4 linked regions of the Homo sapiens genome follow. The protein of the gene in region 1 purifies or fractionates together with the protein of each later gene. This does not show direct contact. Each region holds a gene or a part of one and is shown on either strand. Other genes may lie near its edges. The genes, in order: TRPC5, SEC24B, STMN4 and STMN2.

Region 1 (6,548 bases):
TCCACTTTTCAAATGACTTAATACCTTTTCCAAAAAGAACTTTATAGTTCTTATGGCAGTGCAAACCTCATCTGAAAACCTCAGTGGGAACTTTAGAGATAAATATGAGGCCAAACCTTAGCCTGAAAATACAAATGACCATTGGCATTCATGTTACATCATGGGTGAATCTCGTGTGGTGTTTTGACTAATAGTTTTAGTGCCCCAGACCTTGGTTTGTTAAATCATCAGGTAAAAAGTACTTGAAGATAGGCAGCAAATCCTTTGTTTAAAAGTACCTTAGAAAAATTGAGGCTGGGCATGGTGGCCCACTCCTGTAATCCCAGCACTTTGGGAGGCCAAAATGGGTGGTTCACTTGAGTCCAGGAGTTTGAGATCAGCCTGGCCAACATGGTGAAACCCATCTCTACTAAAAATACAAAAATTAGCTGGGCATGGTGGTACACGCCTGTAGTCCAACTACTTGAGAGGCTGAGGCATGAGAATCACTTGAACCTGGGAGGCAGAGGTTGCAGTGCACTGAGATCACACCACTGCACTCAAGCCTGGGCGGCAGAGCGAGACTGTCTCAAAAATAAATAAATAAAGGTACCTAAGAAAAATTGAGTATATTTTCTTGGTAATCAAGTTTTCAAAAGATTGCTCATATAGACATAGTCAATGCAAATTGATCCAAGTGTTCAGATCATTTAAATAACCTCTTCATACCTACTTCACAGCCCTACCTTCAATCCCTGCAGCTTTGCCTCAAAACTAAGGATATTTTAGATTGTTTCTTTGGCTTACTTTATCTAGATAATTGCTCCAAATATCCACCTTGTTGGTGTAGGACTCGGCAGTGGGATCTGAGTACCCCAAATGAATGTGAGCTTTACTTCAGCAGAGAGAAACATTGTTACCATTATATTTCCAATGAACCTTCCAGTAACTTTTTTTCCAACAGATGTGGGTTTTGGCTTGCTTTGCCTTTTGAGGGATGTCTGTAAAAGTGAGAACGTGTCTGTGTATATACATAGACACACATAACAAAACTTAACAGCATTTGATGGTTCTGCCCTTGGCCCTTTATCCCTTTAGGTAATTACTAGATCATTTTGAAGAGAGGGAAGCAAGAATAACTTTTCAATGAGACATTTCCTGAGCTGTGAGGAATTGCCAAAATGAACTGCCATGACAGCATCTTCTGTAGCACTTTTATATTGAGAGCTATCAAGATTTGAGGTTCCTGGTTTTGTTTAAAAAAAAAAAAAGCATTTAGGTCAGAATAACTTACCTGGAAGACTTAAATATACACATTTTTGGCAAAATAAAGTCAGTCTGCATACTTCAGATTTACTGTATACCTGAGATTTGGTGCATACTTGAGGTGTTAATATTCATTCATATGCTGGTACGTGGCCTAGGATTTTCATCTTTTGTGTGGTGATCCAGAGGAGGTGTTAGTGGGTGCTTTGTGAGAGCTTTACTTTTAGAAAATGTAATGTTTAAGAAACAGAGTTAACTGCTGGAATGATAGAGGCAGCAAGCCAGTGTGCTCTAGCATCTTTAGGCTCAGTATTTGTGTTATCCCCAACTTGAGTGGATTTGTATCTTGTACTTGATTACTGGATCTGAGTTGTGTTCATTCTTTTTCTAAAGATATACCATCAATGTTTGTGGTACCTGAGAGACATATACATATTAAGAATTATAATATTTAAACATAAAACTAAGTGGAATGCCCTTATGCCAAAAAGCTAGTTTTCTTATATGATGTGAAAAGATGTGAAAGCTCTAGAGGCTTCCTGTTACTACACAAATAAATGACAAACAATTTCTGTAGGAACATAAACAGCCCACAACTTTTGATCATTGAAATCAACTGTCATACATCCCTGAAAGTAGCATGTATCTGTCCTACCCTCCTCCCCCTCAAAGAACTTTCTTTATAACTCCAGTGACTTGATAGAACCAAAAAAGACTAACTGAAGTAGGTTAGAATGACTTGCAACGTGAAGGTCATTTTCACCATTTTTCAGCATATTTGCCCTTTGACTTTAGCAGGTTTTGGGGCAACCTAACATCCCAGGAGCTTACATACATACACACAAAAGGCACTGTCCTTAGTGGCACTTGAATGAATATGTGGCAGTGTGCCTTTTATTTAAGCCTAAGGTAGCCAGCCATTTGAAAGTACAATTAAGCTGGGATTGGCCATTTTGTATCTTTTCCCAGAAGTTCAATATATCCCCAAAATACTCATTGCCACCAATTGCCTTCCAACCTAGGAACCCTCTTGACAGTTCTCCGCTCTTACACAACTCTTAAAGCTGACCCTTGGAAGGAAGAAAGGAGGCTTTGGATTTTTGCTGGGATTGGGAAACTTAGATGGTGATAGTGTAGTAAAGAGACAGTTGGAAAAGCTTTTGAAGTAAGGATGAGTGAGGATATACACTTTAAAACACGGGGCTAAACCACCAAATTGTCAGTTTTTTGGATGGCCAAATTGAGATGAATAACCTGAATTAAAAATATAATTTAAAATGGTTAATTAAAACATTAGCATCATCATTTCTCCTTTAATGAAATTCAAAAAATGCAACAATATATGAAAGCAGAACTACCGGTAAATCATTTTTCAAATTTTGGGTCATATTTGGGTTAAATTTCAGATGTTAACAAGTTCTCAACCTTGGGATCACTGTAAATATAAGTTCAACACACCACACCCATAATGCAATATCACAGATGGGCTTTCATAAATATGTACACTTTAGCCAATTGGAAAGATCACTTCCTTCAAATTTTATCTAAGAAATAAAGTGGGTTTGTCAAAACAACATGAAAGAGAAATGAAAGGTAAGGAAGGGCACTATGGCAAAAAGCCAGATTATGTATCTGCTGTCATCTTTTAGCCTCATAAATTTGGAATAAACATAAAATAGGATAATGACTGATATTTTCATAAACATACCAGAACTTATGCACCCAAATGAACGTGGTCCTTTAAAGTAGTCACCTTAAAAAGCCATACCCATATTCTAATGATGCTGCCATTACTCTACCCACTTTGGACTTCTGCTTTTGAAATGACTTTCAAAGTCCACAGTACAATCTCTGAATATCCTCAATGGTAGAAAATCATGATCCTATAAGATTAAATTTTTAGGAATTTAGAAATTGCCAAAAGTAATTTTAGATCCACACTTGGTAAAACATGTGGTAGTCAAGATGAGTACCACTTTCTCTGGTTAAAAACAAACAAACGAACAAACAAAAAACATTTTCAAGTGCTACTACACAATAGGCACTTTGATAGGTGCAATTATAAAATAATGAGATTGTCTCTTGTGGGATTTGTAAGGGACCTGGAACTGTTCTTGGGAATCTAGTTTTTTTCCCCTAATTAACTTTATTGAGGAATGATTTATGTACAATTACCTGCATTCATTTAAAGTGTACAAATTGGTGAGTTTTCAGAGTTGTATATACCCCTGGAAGCACCAGCCAAAATCAAGTTATAGAATATCTCCATCACCCCCTCAAGAATGCTTGTTCTCCTTTGTATCCTGGAATCTAGTTTCAATTATGCTTGGAGCAGTGGTAGCCTTACATGAATAAGCACATAGCCTCCTGAAGAGAACACTTTAAAGAGCAATATATTTAGATAGAGAAGCTTCACTGATTTGGGAACAACCATAATGATTAACCCTTTGTGTTTAAACAGTAAAATACATTGAGTTCCAATGGCTTATGCTGTAAATAAACTCAGAATTGACTCCTCAAACTTATTTGATCCTTAAGAAATGACATTGTATAGCACAGAGGCTCTGGTGACTAGGCTGTTATCAGGGAGAGGGACAGTAAAGAAAAACCACTAACCTCCATAGAGAACAGAGGGGAGGATTTTGGACTCATAAGAACCCACGGTGGCAGAAGCAATGGAAAGAAACTCTAATAGGAAGATGGCAGCTAGCTAGCTGAATGTGTTCAGGTCATTTGAAAGTCACATATTCAGATTAAGTATTTCCTGTATAAGATCTAGTCATGGTATTTAAAGTATAGCCTCATCATGTTGTGGCCACACCTTGTAGGACCTCCTTGTAAAACATATTAAGCAATCAGTTTAAATATCCAAGGCAAAGTAACCTGTAGTCCAATAAATCAGTGATAACTGTGCTTAGTGTACGTGGGCAGGAGAAGCAGCCAGAATTCTCAAGTGTCTTAACAGGATAAGTGGGACCAATGACACCAAAATGAATATTATGTGAGCACATGAAGAGTCCTCTAAACCCAAAGGGTTAACACATTAGTCTGTGGTTTAATGTAAAAGGAAATTCAATTCGATAAATTAACTTTAAAATTAAGTGTTCAAATTACTACCTTAACAAAGTAAAAGTAAAGCTGTATCTTATCTCAACAGTAAAGACACAGACCTTCCCCAGGACACTTCAGATAAGGATAAACACATCCTTCTCAAGCAAATACATTTTAGTTTGTTTCTTATAATAGGAATGCACACCAGAGGTACTATTCAACAGAACAATAGTTAAACTCTTCACAGGATTCTATTTATTCCATATTTCTCAAAAATGGGGTTGAAATTAGGGATGGGAGTTTCTTTCTACTCAAAACAATGAATGCAGTCTGCAGCTACAAACTAACATTTGGTAGCAGGAAGGAGAATACTAGAGAATACGAGCTATGTGTAATTCACCTTCTAAGCCTAGTTGGCAGCCCCAACCACATATCACCATATAGAAAGTGTGTCAAATTTCAGTTTAAAATGATACATCTTGAGCATAATCATGAAAAGGGAAAATTCCAAATGTGTCTGTGTAAATGACACTGGCTTTGAAGACTATTTTCAAAGTGGAAATCTCTTTGAATAACTATCACTTTTATTTAAACACTTTCTGTAAGTGCACAGTGTCAATCTTAATGTATTAAAAAGAATCTTGTACAATAAAATAATTTTGTGTATTTTTAGCTTCAGTATCAACAAAATAAAGTATTTACTTTTTTCCCCTGAAATGTGTGACAACTCAGATTTTAAGGTGTTATGTTCCTCCCTTTTTCAGTGTAATCATTCGTAGCCACCTATTATTAACATTTATGAACAAAAGACTTCACAATGTAATTTGCCTAGCAGAAACACTAATGGGAGACCTCCACAGTCCAATATATTTTGAAAAGTATATGAGAATAAATATTCTGATTTTTATATCTTCCATTAAACAAAGCTGACTAGTATTTAAGAATTTAATAATAATTTATAAGAACTATGAGATGAAGTAAAGAGACCAATACAGTTTTAAAGCTATAGCTTACAACATTGAAAAACCTTAGAGGCCCAATCCTGGAAATTAATTATTCTTCATTGAGTACTTAAAAGTATGATACATATTGCATAGAACAGTTGGAATCTGTGAGACAGTGAGAAGACATATAAATGGAGGTTAAGCTGGTCATGATTAAACCAGTGTCATCTGAGGACATCTGAGCAATAATTCCAGAATCAGTTGACGTTTCTCCTTCAGCTTTTTTTGTAGTAACAGACTTTTCAGCAACTAGCTTTCTACTAATTCAGATTCCTGAAGTTTGATTGTCTTATTTTACTGATTAACTTTTACACCAGCAGGGCACTGGTTAGCATATCAGAAAAGCTTAACTTTCAGCTAAATAACTCACCTGTAAGTCCTGGCCTAATTATTTTAAGCATAAATGAGTGTACAACATTTACACACTGGTTAGATAAGCATAATTAAAATAAGCAGAAGTCACAAATGAGATAACATCTCACACCAGTTAGAATGGCAATCATTAAAAAGTCAGGAAACAACAGGTGCTGGAGAAATAGGAGCACTTTTACACTGTTGGTGGGACTGTAAACTAGTTTAACCATTGTGGAAGACAGTGTGGCGATTCCTCAAGGATCTAGAACTAGAAATACCATTTGACCCAGCCATCCCATTACTGGGTATATACCCAAAGGATTATAAATCATGCTGCTATAAAGACACATGCACACGTATGTTTATTGTGGCACTATTCACAATAGCAAAGACTTGGAACCAACCCAAATGTCCATCAATGATAGACTGGATTAAGAAAATGTGGCACATATACACCATGGAATACTATGCAGCCATAAAAAATGATGAGTTCATGTCCTTTGTAGGGACACGGATGAAGCTGGAAACCATCATTCTCAGCAAACTATCACAAGGACAAAAAACCAAATACCGCATGTTCTCACTCATAGGTGGGAATTGAACAATGAGAACACATGGACACAGGAAGGGGAACATCACACACTGGGGCCTGTCATGGGGTGGGGGTGGGGGGAGGGATAGCATTAGGAGATATACCTAATGTAAATGACGAGTTAATGGGTGCAGCACACCAACATGGCACACGTATACGTATGTAATAAGCCTGCATGTTGTGCACATGTACCCTAGAACTTAAAGTATAATAATAAAAAAAAAAACAGAAGTATATCTGACAAAGATTTGCAACCAGCATATACAAAGAACTCCTATAATGCAATAACACAAATTATTTGA
Region 2 (5,782 bases), on another chromosome or scaffold:
TTAAGTGCTATGTTAATTCTCAAAAGGATTTTTTTAGACTTACATATAATTAGTTTAAGTACAGTTCTATAGTGGTTATGTGTCAAATGCATAGCCATGTAATCTCTACCACAATCAGGATACACAATAGTTCCATCACTACAAAATTATCCCCCTATACTTGCCCCTTTGCAGTAAAACCCTCCCTCAGTCTCAATCCCAATTAGTCACCATTTGATAATTTTCCCTTTCCCTGAATGTCATTTATATAGAATCATTTGTATGTAGCTTTTTTTTTTTTTTTTTGAGATGCAGTCTCACGCTGTCACTCAGGCAGGAGTACAGTGGCGAGACCTCGGCTCGGCTCACTGCAACCTCTGCCTCCTGGGTTCAAAGGATTTTCCTGCCTCAACCTCCCAAGTAGTTGGGATTACAGGGGTGCAGCACCACGCCCAGCTAATTTTTTTCTTGTATTTTTAGTAGAGACAGGGTTTCACCATGTTGGCCAGGCTGGTCTTGAACTCCTCACCTCAAGTGATCCGCCCACTTCAGCTTCCCAAAGTGTTGGGAATGAGCCCACCTGGAATGAGCTCATTACAGGCATGAGCCACCACACCTGGCCTATGCAGCTTTTTGAGTCTAGCTTCTTTTATTCAGCACAATGTCTTTGAGAGGCATCCATGTTTGTTTAAGTATTGACAGTTCATTCCTTTTTATTGCTGCATTATATTCTATTGTATGAGTGTACCATGGATTGTGCATATATTATTTGAAGGACATTTCAGTTTTTACCACATTTTTAGAGATTATGAATTCCCTCAAAGATTTTGAAAGTAAGATTAAGGAAGAAATGTGAGGACAGTCTGATTCACAATGCAGTAAATAAAAATGTAAAACATATGCTTTTTAAATAAGAGAAAATCCTAGCTTCAGTTTCTTTCTTTCTTTTTTTTTTTGAGACAGAGTCTCACTCTGTTGCCCAAGCTGGAGTGGAGTGATTGGAGTGATGCGGTCTCGGCTCACTGCAACGTCCGCCTCTCAGGTTCAAGCAATTCTCCTGTCTCAGTCTCCTGAGAAGCTGCGATTACAGGCGCCTGCCACCACGCTCGGCTATTTTTTCGTATTTTTAGTAGAGATGGGGTTTCACCATGTTGGCCAGCCTGGTCTCAAACTCCTGACCTCGTGGTCCGTCCGCCTCAGCCTCCCAAAATGCTGGGATTACAGGCGGACGCACTGCCACCAGCCAAGCTTCAGTTTTTAAGATAGAAAAATACATTTCACATGTTCCTTCAATTTTTACTCACCCATGTTTGCCAGAAGGCAGATGGCAGCTTGTACATCCACTCCCGCATATACATCTGCTAGTGAACTTACCACTGGCAAACAAAGTGTATGTACTCTAATTCTCCGCTCACCTAAAAAAAAAGTCATTGAAAATACATTAGATCAAAAAGGAAATAAAGCAAAGCAAACATGTCAAATACTTTTTTTCTTTCTTTCTTTCTTTTTTTTTTTTTTGAGACGGAGTCTTGCTCTGTCTCTTAGGCTGGAGTGCAATGGTGTGATCACAGCTCACTGCAACTTCTGTCTCCTAGGTTCAAGTGATTCTCCTGCCTCAGCCTCCCAAGTAGCTGGGATTACAGGTGCCTGCCACCATACCCAGCTAATTTTTGTATTTTTAGTAGAGATGGGGTTTCACCAGGTTGGCCAGGCTGGTCTGGAACTCCTGACCTCAGGTGATCCACCCACCTCGGCCTCCCAAAGTGCTGGGATTACAGGCGTGAGCCACCGCCACATCCAGCCACAAGTCGAATTTTTATTCAAGTTATTGTTTTGGCTAGATTACATCACCAACAGGATTTTGAGATGTAAAAACCAAGTTTTACAATGAACATTTTTAAAAGAAAATTAAACACTCTCCAAATCTGCAGAGTATGAACATACGCTATATCACTCATTCTAAATTATATCCTATAGAGTAAAATACCAGAAAACTTAACTGTCAAGTAACAAATGAAGGCCTTAATTGCTAAGCAGTTTTTTACTTTTTGGGGCAAGAAATAATACAAAGAATGGCATAGCTGGATTTAGCATGAACTGTTTTGAAACAAGATTCTAAGAATACAAGTCTTCCATAAATTAAAAAAGTGTGCTATTTAAAGATGCAAAAGTGAGAGTTAAAAAAAGAAAGAAAATAACAACATATGTTTGATTAACTAATACAAATTCCATTACTTCCCACTGTGTATTCATTCTTTTTCCCCACTCCACTAAAGGCCATGTGAAAGGAGGGAGGAATTACTGCTGCAGACTATATTTCATTTCTGTTAACATTACCTTTGCTTGATGTATATAATAGGGCTGTTTGAAAACATACTAAGGAAGTATCTGTTAAACTTTCTTCAATTGACAACTGCACCGCAAATCCAGCATCAGGATTGATGTTGGCAAGGGATAACAAATCAGTAGAACGGACAAAGAAGTTACCGTGAAAAGTGTGCATTGAAAGACCTAAAAAGGAGAAAATCATAAAAAATCAAGTTAACAATAGTATCTTCACCTCAAGCTAAAGTTACTTTTTTAAGTCAAAGATGTTTATGATTTTGAATCAAAAGGATAACTGGGGAGTCAAGGTTCAAGCATAGGCAGAGTTTCTAAAATATTAATTCAAAAAAACTAGTGGACGTTATATAAAAGGGAGACTATACATTTCACTTGTATTGACACCTAACCTTATTTACATTTTCTCACATGTGACTTGAAGTCAGACATAATCTGACTAAACATTTAATTTACAAAATTAAGCAAATGAGGGTTATTATATAACTCATCCTAGATTTAAAATAAAGGTAAAATAAAGGATTAAAACAAATATTCACATAAAACCAAGGAAGTGTACATTAAATGATTATGAAGGCAAAGACCCTTACTTTGACAATTCTTATTTAAGATCTTCCCTATTCCTCTAATTCTCCTTCTAAAATCATTTCTAATATAGGCTTTCTCTTAGGTTCTTCTGAGTAAATCAAACATTACTTTTGTCTACTTATTCAAGTTATTTTTAAAAATTGGGCAAGGATTATTCAATAACTATTATCTATTTAAAACATGGTATAGCTAATGAGATCAAACAGTCTTCCATCATGAACAGTCAGAGGTAGTCAATACATGGAATGCTCACTGACTTTGATACAAGTATTTAATATAAAATATAACTTTTACAACTTCATACCTTTAGTACACCTTATTCTCATAACAGCTTCAAACCCAATTTTTCTTGTGAGATACCGTTTTAGGTCTTTTTGTAACTTTTCTGCTTGTGAAGGATTGTGAGTATAGTGGAATGATGGATAATAATAGATGCACCCTGCAGAATACTTGGACATGCAAGCTTTAGAGAGAAATACAAAAAGTATTAGCTATAGAAATAATAATATTTTACTTGTCCAACAGTAGTACAGATTCTACATTATGAAGAAATCTAAGTCATGAGAAAACCTAAGCCATCAAAATAAGAACATACAAATCTGAGAAAACAGTAATATCTATAAAATATATGATAAAGTTTACTGTTGAGCAGAATGGTAAGGGAATCATGCTATCTAAACAAAATACAAGTGACATTTTATATTTGTATAGTGCTTTAAACTTTACTGGTAGTTTTCATAGATATTGTCTATCTAATGCACATGCTTTTCTCCCTAAAATATAGAGAATGCTTACTGAAGAGTTTAGATTTAATTATGCATTAAAAATGTTCATTTAAACAAATGTACCCATGATGACTTTCCTTACCTAGAGAAGCAAGATCAGAATACTGTGAACTTAAAAGGAACAAATCCACTGCAGTTTGCTGTCCCGAGCAATCTAATGCAAGTTTCTTATAAAAATCAGTTGCAGGGCCAAGATGTTGTACCACCTAAGTCAACAGATCATATAGTAAGAGCTAGCAATCTTTATGCTCATATTTTCATGTCATTTTTATAACAAAAAGGATATCCTCTGCCTCCCTACCAAACTAAGAGTTTTCTAAATGTCTAGGCATTTGGTGCAGATTCCCTATGATAATAATAATGATAGATAATCTTTATAAAAAACACTTATGTGCCAGCACTGTTTCACACAAATTAATTTTCATAACACATCTCATATGGTTTTTATCATCTACATTTTCAGACGAAGAAACTGAGGCAATAACTGATTAAGTAACTTGACCAAGATTACATAGATATTGAGAAGTGGATATTGGAATATCAACCCAAGAAATCTGGCTGCAGAATGAGTGCTGTTAACCATTATTAAATATTGTTAAATAACTTAAGAGAGTAAAAGATTAAGGAAGGTGTTTCTTTTGGTATGAGAAGACTTGAGCTGAGAAGGTGACACTGGAGAGAGTCTCCAAGTTCTTAATCATCATACAACATTTCCTAAAAAAAAGTTTCAATCCTCTTAATTACACTGTATGATGATTATATTAGAGCTTACTCTAATATAAGGAATTAAGGATATGAAGGAATATGTAAACCAGAACAGATACTGAAACTTTAGAGTCCTAGGCAGACAGATAGAGAATATTTTTGAAAGTTAAATGAGAAAACAAAACAAATCAAAACAAAGCTCTATCAAAGGATTCAGTAAATATATATCAGCTTCCTGTGTTCAAAACACCACAGTAATTTATAATGGATTGTAATGGGTCAACGAACTAAATGCCAGCTACACTTGTTGATGAGTTTAAAATACATACTTATTTTAAAATTAGCTTCCTTCTCAAATGCAATTTTAAAATACAATTTCTATAAAGGGTGAAATATGGTGCCTTTTTTTCTCTAGCATATTGGTGAAGAATAAAAAAAGCAATGCTACTTAATGGTGGTTACAGGATGAGAGTCCTTAAGAAGAGAAGTTGATTAAAAAACCCAAATAAACAAAACATTCTTTATTTAATAACTTAAAGATTATGCCCTTTAACCCAATAATTTCACTTCTAGGAATTTATCCTAAGGCAAATCTGGATATGTGGCTAAAGATTTATGACACTATTAAAACTGTTTAATTCATACTCATAACTACTTATAATGATATTTTCTCAAATATGTTAAGGCCAGACAGAACTTGTACAAAAGAAAAATGAATATTTTTGTTCATTTATTATTTGAAATAGGGCTTAAAAATGCCTGACCAAATCTTCACATAAAACCCAAGTAATGTTCAGCTTCGTATATTCCTTTCATTGTTATTATTATTATTGTTTTTCTTTTTTTTTGAGACCGGGTCTCGCTCTGTTGCCCAGGCTGGAGTGCAGTGGCAGTGATCACAGCTCGCTGCAAACTCTGCCTCCCTGGTTCAAGTGATTCTCCTGCCTCAGCCATCTGAGTAGCTGGGATTACAGGCTTGCATCACCGCACCCAGCTAATTTTTGTATTTTTAGGAGAGATGGGGTTTTGCAATGTTGGCCAGACTGGTCTCAAACTCCTGAACTCAAGTGATCCACCCACCTTTGCCTCCCAAAGTGCCGGGATTATAGGTGTGAGCCACTGCACCCGGCCATTATTGTTATTTTTTAAGATAGGGTCTCGTTACATTGCCCAAGCTGGTTTAGAACTCCTAAGCTCAAATGATCCTCTAGCCTCAGCCTCTTGAGTAGCTAAGGTAACAGGCAGGTGCTACCACACCCAGCCCTTTTTTAAAAAAAAAATAGTGCAAATACAGGTCTGGCTCACATCTGCAATCCCAGCACTTTGCAGGGCTGAGGTAGGGGTATTGCTTGATCTCGGCAGTTTGAGGCCAGCCTGGGCAACAC
Region 3 (5,782 bases), on another chromosome or scaffold:
TTATTTTCACCATCGTGGCTGAAAAGCTGCACACTCAGAACACTCACCTCCCTGGGCCTGGTCCCCAGACCATTAGCAGGAAACAAGGACACTTCCTAAATTCCCCCCACCACTTTCAGAGCCTTCCACATTCTTTGATTTTTTTTCCCAGCCTTTTCCTAAATACCTTCATGGCCCTTTTGCTCATTGCCATCATTCATTCATTCATTCACAAACACTAAATGATCTTATACTATGTGCCAGGCACTGGTCTAACAGCTTGGGGTAAAAAAAAGTCTCACAGAGGTAAGACATATATACATCACTAAAATCCAGACTAGTGTAGACATATGCCCTAAGGTGTAGACAGGATGCACTGAAGGAATTCATGATAGGGGATTATTTTCTTTTTGAAAGATAAAGAAAAGTTACACATAGAAGACGGTATCAGAATCAAGCCATGAGAATCCATAGAAGGCATCCCGGGCCTCGAGATGCACTACACCATGATCTTCTCTCCCTCCTCCAACGAAGAAGCTCTTTCCTTAATTCCCTAGCCTTTCCCTAAATCCTTAGTATTTGTCAGTCTTATTTTTGCCACCATGCATATAGGGCCACCTCTTGGAGGAACATAGCAATGTCCTATCCCCCTAACCAAACTGTGAGCTGCAAGAGGCCAAGGGTGTTTAGTTCTTTGTTTCCCTCAATGGTGTCTCATTCTCCACCGCACACTCGGGAGATGCTCCCTAAATATTGCAGATTGGTGATGAGCTTATCCCAGCTCAGGTCCACCACCTGTCTTCTCCACCTCCCTCCCCTTTATGCTGAGAGGGAGGAAAGAAGGAAGGGTCAGCATTTACCTTCCTTCGCTCCTCAGCCGCTTCTAGTTTCTTCTGGATCTCTTCCAGGGATGGGTCTCGCCGCCTTGGCAGGGAGGCGTTGAACTCGGGAACCCCATCAAAGGAGGGTGGCTTCAGGATGACTTCAAAGGATTGGCCCGAGGTGCATTTGTTCAGCTCGATGACTTCCATGTCGGAAATGACGCACCAATTCAGGTCCACCGTGTCTGCTACAGAGGGCAGAGAAGGGGCTGCTCACGTCCTGAAGAATGCACAGGCACCCAGCAAGCATGCGGCGCATGCACACGGGAGTGGGAGAACTGGGGCCCCAAGCAAGCTGGAGACTGGGGTCTGGCTTAGTCCTACACCCTAGTACCTAAGGGCAATGGCCTCTGACGGGGCTGAAGGAGTTTGTAGCAACAGTGAGGCTTCAGCCTGCAAGAATAGGGGGCCCCAGGCAATGTGATTTCCTACGACACTGGCTGCTTTTGCCTTTGCTTCCCCCACCAGCCTCCTCTGACTGCTGAGCTGCTCAATTTGTCGTCCGTGGTGACAGGCAGGGGTGCGTTTCAGCCCCCGCCCACCCCCGGCCACAGCCCATCTGACGCTCGGCCTGCGGAATCCCTCCGCTGCCTCCCTCCTACCCTGAGCTCTTCTTTCTCTCCAGTCAGCACTGTCTTTCCGCTGGCTTTCATCCTTCCTCCTACACTGTCTCCCACACCAGCCTAGACAGAAAAAACAACCTCAGGTCATCCGAGCATGCCTGTTCCTTGGTGCCAGACCAAACCAAACCCATCTCTGCTTCTAACCAGGACATTAGGAGGTGACCTGGTCCCCGAGCACCCCTGGTGAGGACGTGGCCACCCAGTGCTCCCTGCTGGTGTCTTGGGGCTGTCCCGGCTACAGGCCCCACACAGCATGGCTGCCACAGAACCTCCTCTTCCCACCTCTGGACTCTCCCAGAGCATTCTCTACCCTTCCCAGAGGAGACCTGTTGACCTGGAAACTGACTCACATCGTCTCATCTTCTCTTCTGGTCTAGATGTTCCCCACAGGTAGAATATCTGTCTGGCTCACCTTTGCATACCCCCCAGTCTCGATTTGCTGGATGCATGCACAGAGGTGACAAGATCGAGTGCACTCTGGGGGGCGCCTGATGCAGACCTTCATGGCCTCCCCCTAGTGCCCAGGCTGGACCACTGCAGCTCAGACCCTCGGGCTCACCCGCTGTGATTTCATCGGCACTGGGAAGGAAACTGTCTCGGGAGGAGAGATTCACGGGACTGGGGTCGGGGTGCAGGACCTATGAGGACAGGACACAGGGCCCCCCCGCCCCTCACTTTCCTGGCTGAGCCTTCACTGACCTTCATATTTGTAGGACGACTTATTCAGGGGATCGGCCAGGAAGCAGGAGCAGAACAAGGACACCAGCGGGAGCTCCTTCATCTTCTCTTTGTAGGCTGCGGAAACACCCAGTCAGGTGAGGATGGCGCCTCTCCTAGCCTCAGAAGTCAGCGTCCTCACGGGTCTGGGGCTCTGAGCAGCCCAGGGTTCCATAAAGGCACTCAAACCACGCAGGCACACGCCAAGCCTGGGGATCCAGGCCTTTCGCCCTGAGCCGTGCTGTTCAGGATCCCTGTGTGGGATTCGAACCCACTCCTGTCTCCTGTGGAAACCTAAGCCTTCCAGAGCATCAGATCCTTCTCCACAGTATGTCTCCTCCCCTTCCAGACCAGAAAGCAAAATGCCCTCATGGAAAGGTCCCAAGCACCAGTGCCTCAGCTCTCCATCCCCCAACATCTGCCCCAGGACATTCCGATTCTTTTTCTCCAGGACACAGGAGACCCACACTCCATTCTACTCCAAATACCTGGCAGCGCTGGCCTGCAGGGTTAAGGAGCTGGATAGGAGGGGACCGTCCTCACCACCATCCCTCTGGTCTGCCCCTCACAAGGTCAGGCTATAAGCCTTCTCTGACCTTTCCAACACAGTGCACAGAGCCTGGGGGTCGCTGGTGTCCCCAAAAGCTGGAGCATATCCCCGCCACCCTCTAGTCTATCTGTGTTTGGGATGTCAGGGGCCAGAGCTGTCCTGGCTCCTGAAAGTCCCTCTCCTCACCGCCTTGGGGCCCGTGTGTCTGGCTGCTCAGGTTGCAGCCCTTAGCTGACCCCTAGCACAGCGCAGGTGTTGCCCCCATCCTCATTTGCTTGTACAATTTTTTGTTGAGATGAGGGTCTCAATATGTTGCCCAGGCTGGACTCAAACTCCTGGGCTCAAGCGATCCTTGTGCCTCAGACTCCTGATACTGGGGACTATAGGCATATGCCACTATACCTGGCTTCCTTTTACAGATTTGAAAATACGTGTAACTGCAAAAATAATATATAGGCATCATAAAAACTTAAAAAAAAACACACATATACAGATGAGCAAAAGGAAGAAAATCTCAGCTGTGACACACCCCCCACCACTTGTTCAACTTGTCGCCTGTGGTGACAGGCAGTGGTGTGCCTCCCGCCACTGCCTGCATGCCCCCAAGCCTCCCATCACTACCTGCACCCCCCCACACACCCCGTGTGCTTCCTGCCAGCTGTGTTCTTCCCTGCTTCTGTGAGTCCATGTTGGGTGAGGGCAGGGGGAATAGCCTACGCCCCTTAACACATGGTTTTTGTACCTACCAGCAAGGGTCATGTTTCTGGGATCTGGTGGCTGAATCTAGCTGAAAGTTACAGAGTGGGTCTGTCACCAGCTTGGGACGCTGTCACCAACCTGAGAAAAGGGGAGGACAGGATTTTACCATCGATGGATTAGACAGGTTATTCTCATAAGAAAGGTCTTTATACACTGGGGAGGGAATCTCAGGGGTACCTCATTTGCTCTTCCTCCAGGCCCTCTCCCCACCAACTCTCCCTGGGGGTCCCCTACCCCGACCTCCCTCCCACAATGATGCTAAACAAGCTCAGATTCCATGAACTAATGATACTTCATAATTGGCTTTCCAGTCTCAAGCCCCCTAGCACATGCAAGCGTGGGTTTCCCAAAAACGTATGGATCAAGGGGTGCTCATCTGTCTCCCTCCATAGCTCAAGAACCTGGCCCAATTCAAGGGTTAGGGTGAGAAGCAAATCCTCCTGCAGAATCAGCTGGGAGGCATTCATAAAATAACTGTGTGTCCTGGACTTCTCCCCGCACATGCCCCAGAAGTCTTTGGGCCAATTCTGATATGGGAAGAGAGGGAATTGGACATAGGATGTTAACAGGCCTCTTCAGATGCCTCTCACCTTCCCTTTCCCAAGACGACTGACCTAAGCTGTGTTTGACCCTATTTAAGACAATCCGGGACACAGGAAAGAAAAACATTAAGGAATCATGTCGTCATCACAGGGCCAGCCAGCACACCACCAGAAATCAGCGTGAGGAATTGCTGTGGGACACAGAGATAGGGCTCCACACCACCAGAAATCAGCATGAGGAATTGCTGTGGGACACAGAAATAGGGCTCCACACCCCCAGCATTTGCCAGGGAGCCTGGGAGGTGTCCCTGGTGTCGGTAGCACCTGAGCAGTGCCTTGAAGGATGAGTTAGAATCAGACAGGAGCTGGCAGGAGGGCATTGTGCAAGGGAACATCACGGCCAAGGGTCGGGGTGAGAACGCCACTCAGTGTCCGTGGGATCAGGTCAAGCTAGTTGACGCTAGATCAGAAAGTGGAAAGAGGAGGGGGCGGGGCAGGAGACAAAACAGGAGAGTCAGGGAAGGAGCAGATCTGGGAGGATCAGAGGGGTGGAGGTGATGGGAGCCCATGAAGGCTACTACAAAGAGAGTGAGGAGCAGCCAGCAGTGAGTGGCCATCCTCAGGACCATTTGATCCTCGGTCACCCTCTGTGGTCACTGTGCCAGGGGAGGGTGGCGAGAGCCAGCAGGCTCACTGCCTACATCCTTGCCAGCCAAAGAGACTCTGAGACCCACTTCAAACCCCTTGCCTTTCTGTGCTGGCTGGAGACTGGCAGGAGGAGGTAATGGGGCAGTGAACTCAGCTCTGGCTTTAGGGCTAGACCAGTGTGGGGTCAAATACAAGTATCACCTCTCTTACCAGCTCTCGCTAGTCTCTTTCTCCATCTTAATCCTGCACAGAGCTGTACAAATTAAATGAGAAAAACCCATGCATAGCATCCAGCAGACAGGAAGCACTGAATAAATGTTAGTCTCTTTGCCCTGTCTTTTGCATCAGGACAGCTATCAGGTGCCACATGCCTGCTTCAGAGCCATTACCTCTGGACCCACAAGTAAGGACTGTTGTTGCCATGTGCGGATGGGGAAACTGAGGCTCAGAGGGTTTATGTGCCTGCTCAGGGCAATGCAGCTAGCAAGTTAGAGTGCCCATTTGAACCGAGGTCCAGCTGGACTTAAACTGCTTTGTTCTCCTTGTTCTTGTTGTTGTGCTTTGGAGCCAGAGGCCCCTGTCATTGCAGCACAATGGGTCTTCTCTCTGCAGAACTAAGCTGGTCCTGACGGCACCAGTGAGTCCCTGAACAGAGAGGCAGGCCTGGTGCCTGCATGCGACTTCCCTGGTCATGACACCCCATCCCGCAGTCTCTGCTCATGGCCAGGCTGACTGACAAGTCACTGGCAGAGTTAGTAAGCCCTTGCCAGAGTGGCAGTGGCCTTGGACTTCTACCTGGGGAAAGGATCAGAAGTGGAAGCCTGAATAGGTGGAGGGGAGGCAGAGAGGGATGCCTGAGAAAGAAGGCAGATGGAGTAGGAGCAGGCAGTTGGAGTTATGGAATGTGCCTCCAGCCCGAGCTAGAAATGATGATAGGACCCTGTGCTCAGGGGGCACTCGACACCCACCACATTATCCTAGTCTAACTTTGCATGAAGCTGGCTTAGGCTGACAAGACAGGCATCATCAGCTTTGCTTTCAGATGAAGAACCTGGGGTTTGGAGAAGTTCAGACGCTTGCTTA
Region 4 (5,782 bases), on another chromosome or scaffold:
AGTTAGTGTGAGAATTGGAAGGTTACTCTACAATAAAGACATATAACCAGCATGGTAAAAGGGTTAGCAATTACTATGTGAAGAAGCATCCAGTTTCTGACCTCACAGAGATTATCTAGCAAACTCATGATTTTATAAAGAAAAGAAGTTTCTCATCAACAGAGACTGAAATGCTACCATACAATATACGTTGCTTTTTTTTTTTTTTTTTTTTTGAGACGGAGTCTCGCTCTGCCACTCAGGCTCAGGCTGGAGTGCAGTGTTGCCACCTTGGCTAATTGCAACCTCCACCTCCCAGGTTCAAGCAATTCTCCTGCCTCAGTCTCCCAAGTAGCTGGGATTATAGGCACCCACCACCACACCCAGCTAATTTTTATATTTTTAGTAGAGACAAGGTTTTGTCATGTTGGCCAGACTGGTCTCAAACTCCTGACCTCAGGTGATCCACCCACCTCAGCCTTCCGAAGTGCTGGCATTACAGGCATGAGCCACCATGCCCGGCCAATATTTTTAAATATTATAAAATATTCTTTATCAAATTGCATAGAAGAAAAGACAGTTTGATAGGTAATAGATATATAAATAGGTCAGGCCAACTAAAAGTGTCCTGAAAAAATTAATATTGTGAAAACAAAAGGATTTTAATGACATTGATAAAATCTCACCCTAAAAGAGATTAAATTAAAAATCACCCTACTTGAACCAGTTCAGTGAGATTTCATTAGCATGCTCTCATTACTGGCATAATCAGCTTCAAAGTCACTAAGCCTCTGAAAGGAAGATGTGTTGCTTATTCTTAATAAAATGGCATAAAAGTAGATCATTAGTCACCAAACATGATAGACTTACCTTTTCCATTTGTTGGCATCTCACATTGTAGATGGCAATTAAAATGGAATCCAGGGAAAGAGGGGGTGGTTTGTATAGCAATGGATTATGAAACAAAGTACTGGATTATTCACCGCTTGACATTCAGGAAACATTCTGCTCCTTACAGAATATGGCACGTGGGCCACAGAATCTTCCGTGTGCTACCTTCTCGGTGAAGAAGAGCACCCCCAAGTTTCTTTTCCTAGGAGCTAACCACAGTAAACCCATTACACACTTTAGCAGAAGGGCTCATTCTAAAGGTCTTAGGATTTTAATCATTTTAAATTTCCTGTTATGCTTCAGGCTCTTCAACACAAAGTGAATATTGTACTCTTTGGTTTTACATAATTATATTCAATTGTCATATTTCAACAGGACATTATTTGTGACTTTAGATGGGTCAATAATGATTTTCATTGTCAGCAGTAAAGTCAATAATTACAGACACATCACCTACCCTACTTGTGTAAAAGCATTTTTTGGTACTAGGAGATTTAGTGTCTGATCAACGGTCCTGGATAGCAAGTAATATATCCCCCAAATAATGAAAAGTGACAAGAAAATAAATATGTTTACTTCAGAAATAAATGGAAAATTAGTGCTATCTAAAATGTAGTCTTAAGTCTCATCTGTGTACATAAAGTAAAATGAGTTTTATGTACTAGTTACTCAAATTTATCTTCCACTCCATTTGTATAGTAATTAAACTCTTACACTCAGTAATATACAAATTGGTAATTAACCTCTTTGCAAAATGTTAAAGTGTTCCTAAATGTACAATAAGTCTCCTTTCCTGTCTCATTGTTTTTCGCTTCACGTACCTCTCATGTAATTATTTCAATGATTGAGTTCAGTGTGAGGAGGTTTATGCCTAGAAAAGGTGCTCACCAATAACGTGCCTCAGTTCCCATAATAGCAAGATCGAGAAGGTTCTTTAGTCTCCCGGAACGTCACGTTGAACATCTCAGTTCTATATTTTGCCTTGACATTTGCATTATATCAGCTGATCATTGTCTTGCCCTAATTTTCCCTTTTAATATTTTAGTGACCTTCTATGTTAGGTACAGGTTATTTAGAAGTGTTCCTCCAAGGCCAGATACTTTTTCCTTGAACAATTTATTTTTAACAACTTTTAGCGATTTTCTCACTTCACCACCCTCCGTTTCATAAGTCCACGCAATCACAATTCCTTTCTGCTAATCTGCACAGTCAAGATATAAAGTAAGAATACCTATTTGAACATGTAGTGAGAACTTTACTTCTCTGCCAAAAATGAAGGAAAATGCTGCCACTTTTGTATGTCACATGTTTTTTATTCTACAGCCTCACTCACTTCATGTCATGTTTTAGTGCAGTTTTCTGGACTAACTGCTTATTTTCTCATTGATTAAACTGCCTATTTGCTCATTGGAATTAGAGCCAATTTTTTTCCTTGAGGGTCTGACTAGAAGATTAAACTATGTTCATGTGAGAATCAATTTCTACCTAAGAAATGAGTTAGAGGAGTTATGGGCAGCAATATCTATCTGGATGCTACACTGTGAAAAAGGAAGCGAGGTTATGCCTTTCTACCCCAATGGGGTAGCAGAGACCTCAGGAACTGAGGTAGATGCCCCCCTGGTTATTAGCGCCCCTGAATAATTTGTTCAAAAATTGACTGCTGGACAGGTGTCGTGTTGCACGCCTGTAGTCCCAGCTGTGCAGGAGGCTGAGGCAAGAGGATCTCTTGAGCCCAGGAATTTGAGGCTATAGTAAACTAAGGTCACACCACTATACTCCAGCCTGAGCAACAAAGCAAGACCCTGTCTCTAAATTTAAAAAAAAATATTGAATGCTTATGAATAGAGACTAATATAGGAAGTCATAAGTATTTCCTTGGGATAGAATGCTTTCCACCATAATTGACTTGACATCCTGTATTTTTGTATGTGTGGACTTAAGTTTTAAATATTTGAAACACAGACAATTATTAAGTCCTGCAAATGTGTGAGTTAATAGTGGATATAACATTCCCTTCCAGGGTGTAAGAAAAGGTACCACAGAAGTGAGCAGCCCTGAAGCACAGCCTGGCCTAGTTTGGCAGGTCTCTGTGAGTTAGCAGCAGACTCACGTGACCACACTCTGTACTGCCTTCTGTTTCTGTTTCACCCCATTAATTGTGCTAAAGAAATGCACTTGACACCTATGCTGTGTAATCTCATTTAGCCCCAATAGCAACAAAAGTACTAACCCCATTAAATTGAGTCATTTCAAACTGAGCCAAATGTTGCACTCCAGTAAATGGAGTAGGCATTGGTTATAATGGGAATTCTCCATTATTCATAATGGAAACCACAGGAGTTTGTTCATGCAGATCAAATGTGTCCCACCAAGGCAAGAAGTATGGAAAAGTGGTGTTGCTGTATTACCTTGTAATTTCAAAGCCTTCCCGTCTGAATCTTATTTCCCTGCTGTTTCCTCTTGACTTTGGTTCTTTCACAAAGGAAAATTAAGAACACAAATATAAACATTAAGTTAAAACACAACTGAACAAAGTGCCAAACTTAATTGGAGCATCTGAAAATGAAACATTAGGCAGTTGCAGTGGCCTCTTGATAATAATTCACAGTAACTCTCTGTAAGCTGATCCTGTCTGAAGAGCAGCAGGCACAAGGCCCCTGGCCATGAAGTCCATCTCAAAGGGCCAGGCTCAGCAAAGCAGGATGCAAACCCAGGCTTTCCAAATACCAGGTTGGGGCTCATGTCACTGTGCCACAGGAGCTTCTGTAGAAAGGCTACTTGAAAAAAGTGGCCATTAAAAATCCAGGTGGATCCTATCTAGGGCAGTGTTGGAAACACTGATCTATGGGAGGAGGAGCAGGAAGGAATTGTTTAACCACTGAGCAGAAATGTTACATTGCTACCTGCCTTTAGCAGCTGTGGCTGATGGGTACCAGTTGCTAAGAAGAGCATTACCTAACAGTGTATTAAGATAGAAAAATGATTTTAAAGCACGGCACTTAGAGAATGTTGAAGTTTTACTTTGCTTTATTTTGATTTGTTTGGTTTGACTTTGTCTCCTGGAGCATCCTCCATGGATTTCTGTTCATTACAAGAGAAACCTAGGGCTCTAACCCAATTCCTAATTCTTGGACACATTGCACCCTTGTTTTGTGATAATCCAGCCTTCTTCCTTGAGAAGGTTTGCTGGACTGGAGGTTACATGTATTGAATTTTCTAAAATGAAGGTGCAAAGCTGTCTCCTCTTATTTCTTTGTGGTGCTCACTTCACTGTGAGATTTCCTATCAATACAGCCCAAGTCAGTGGGCATGCATGAGGTGGAGATGAGGGAGTTAGGAAGGACTTGGACTCTCATCAACCATCAGGATCCCTGAATCCACTAACTGTTCATAATCAAAGAAGTTTGAACAAATACTTCACACACATGAAATTGCCAAAATTTTGCATTTGAGTTGTTATACCAGTAAGTCCAGTTGCCATCATCTCCTTGTCACAAGTGTCTTAAATTTTGCTTTTGATAATAATGATTACCACTCATTCAGTACTAACTTACTTGATATTAGACACTGCATTAAATACCTTGCAAACATTATTTTGTTTGATCCTGACAACCATATGAGATAGGTACTATTCTTATCCATTACCAAAAAAATTAATTTCATGAAGACTTTTCCCAGAGAGAGAAACTTTAAATATTTACACACACACCTCTCTCCCTGTAACAATTCCGTAGTCCTGATAACAGCAAATAAGCAAAGTCTGTGTAGGATGCTTTACCAACAGTCCCACCTAGAGGCAGGAGAGTGAACCAGCTAGAAAATATTTTATTCATATTTCTTCCAGAAAGGCTCCATTGGAGTTTGAACTCAATTTATGTTATAATTTTCTTATTATTTTTGTATTGGTTTTCCTGAAACCAATACAAAGTAAGAAAGCATTGGTTCCACTAAAAATGTCCTAAAACCAGCCAAGCACAGTGGCTCACACCTATAATCCCAGTACTTTGGGAGGCCGAGGCGGGTGGATCACTTAAGCCAGGAGTTCAAGACTAGCCTGGCCAACATGACGAAACCCCATCTCTACTAAAAATACAAAAATTAGCAGGGTGTGGTAGCACACACCTGTAATCTCAGCTACTCAGGAAGCTGAGACATGAGAATCGCTTGAACCTCAGAGGCAGAGATTACAGTGAGCAGAGATCACGCCACTGTACTTCTGCCTGGGTGACAGAGCGAGACTCTATCTAAAAAAAAATAAACACATAAATAGTAAAATGTCCTGAAACCATTATGGGGTTAAAGCAAGAGGCAGGGCTGGTTCCCAGGATTTTCTGTCTAATCTCCAGTGAGCCACAGACCTATTCCTGATCAACTTGAGAATAAACACATCAGTAAAGATGTGTAAGGCTGTCTGACTTTCCCATTTCTGTAGAATTTTATTTGAAGAGAAGTTTCTCCTTTCTCCAGGCCCCATATTGTTTATACAAAAAGACCTTTCCAGTAAATGTCCACAACCACTACCATCAACTAAAATGTTTTCCCACTAATGCTTTCAATGGTAATCAGTATTTAACAGGGCACTTAGGATTATTTTTTGATCAACCATTGTTTAGATATTCCCACTTATAATTACTCCTGTGAAGGATTGCCTCGGGGCATCAGCTGATCCTGAGAAATTATCCAGAAGCCATGAGTGTGTAATAATTTAGTCTTAAACCTAAATAGGTCAGTATTGGGTGGGACTTTTCTCAGCTGCATAATGGGGAGAATAAAAAGAATATGGAAAGAAGTTACGTAACACATCCTGGGTCACAAACAGAGGTAAGACTTGAACACAGGCCTGACATCAAAGCCCATGCCAGTATGACTTACAAAAGGTAGACTGGACTACCTGCATTTGAGTCACTAGTGA

The links.
Region 2: the proteins of TRPC5 (region 1) and SEC24B purify together in Homo sapiens (affinity purification with mass spectrometry; one large-scale study listed by BioGRID and IntAct). This does not show direct contact.
Region 3: the proteins of TRPC5 (region 1) and STMN4 purify together in Homo sapiens (affinity purification with western blotting, with the first as the bait; one study listed by BioGRID). This does not show direct contact.
Region 4: the proteins of TRPC5 (region 1) and STMN2 purify together in Homo sapiens (affinity purification with western blotting, with the first as the bait; one study listed by BioGRID). This does not show direct contact.

What each region holds. Positions count from the first base shown.
Region 1 is NC_000023.11:111,766,476-111,773,023, reverse strand, and holds the end of TRPC5 (short transient receptor potential channel 5), read left to right. Parts: 3' UTR 1-5,013; downstream 5,014-6,548. UniProt on the Homo sapiens protein: Forms a receptor-activated non-selective calcium permeant cation channel. Mediates calcium-dependent phosphatidylserine externalization and apoptosis in neurons via its association with PLSCR1.
Region 2 is NC_000004.12:109,522,934-109,528,715, reverse strand, and holds part of SEC24B (protein transport protein Sec24B), read right to left. Parts: intron 3,899-5,782; coding exon 3,775-3,898; intron 3,371-3,774; coding exon 3,212-3,370; intron 2,491-3,211; coding exon 2,317-2,490; intron 1,395-2,316; coding exon 1,284-1,394; intron 1-1,283. UniProt on the Homo sapiens protein: Component of the coat protein complex II (COPII) which promotes the formation of transport vesicles from the endoplasmic reticulum (ER).
Region 3 is NC_000008.11:27,240,215-27,245,996, forward strand, and holds part of STMN4 (stathmin-4), read right to left. Parts: intron 4,512-5,782; exon of another isoform or gene 4,376-4,511; intron 3,588-4,375; 5' UTR 3,510-3,587; coding exon 3,497-3,509; intron 2,279-3,496; coding exon 2,183-2,278; intron 1,544-2,182; coding exon 1,463-1,543; intron 1,049-1,462; coding exon 840-1,048; intron 1-839. UniProt on the Homo sapiens protein: Exhibits microtubule-destabilizing activity.
Region 4 is NC_000008.11:79,648,260-79,654,041, forward strand, and holds part of STMN2 (stathmin-2), read left to right. Parts: intron 1-5,782. UniProt on the Homo sapiens protein: Regulator of microtubule stability. When phosphorylated by MAPK8, stabilizes microtubules and consequently controls neurite length in cortical neurons.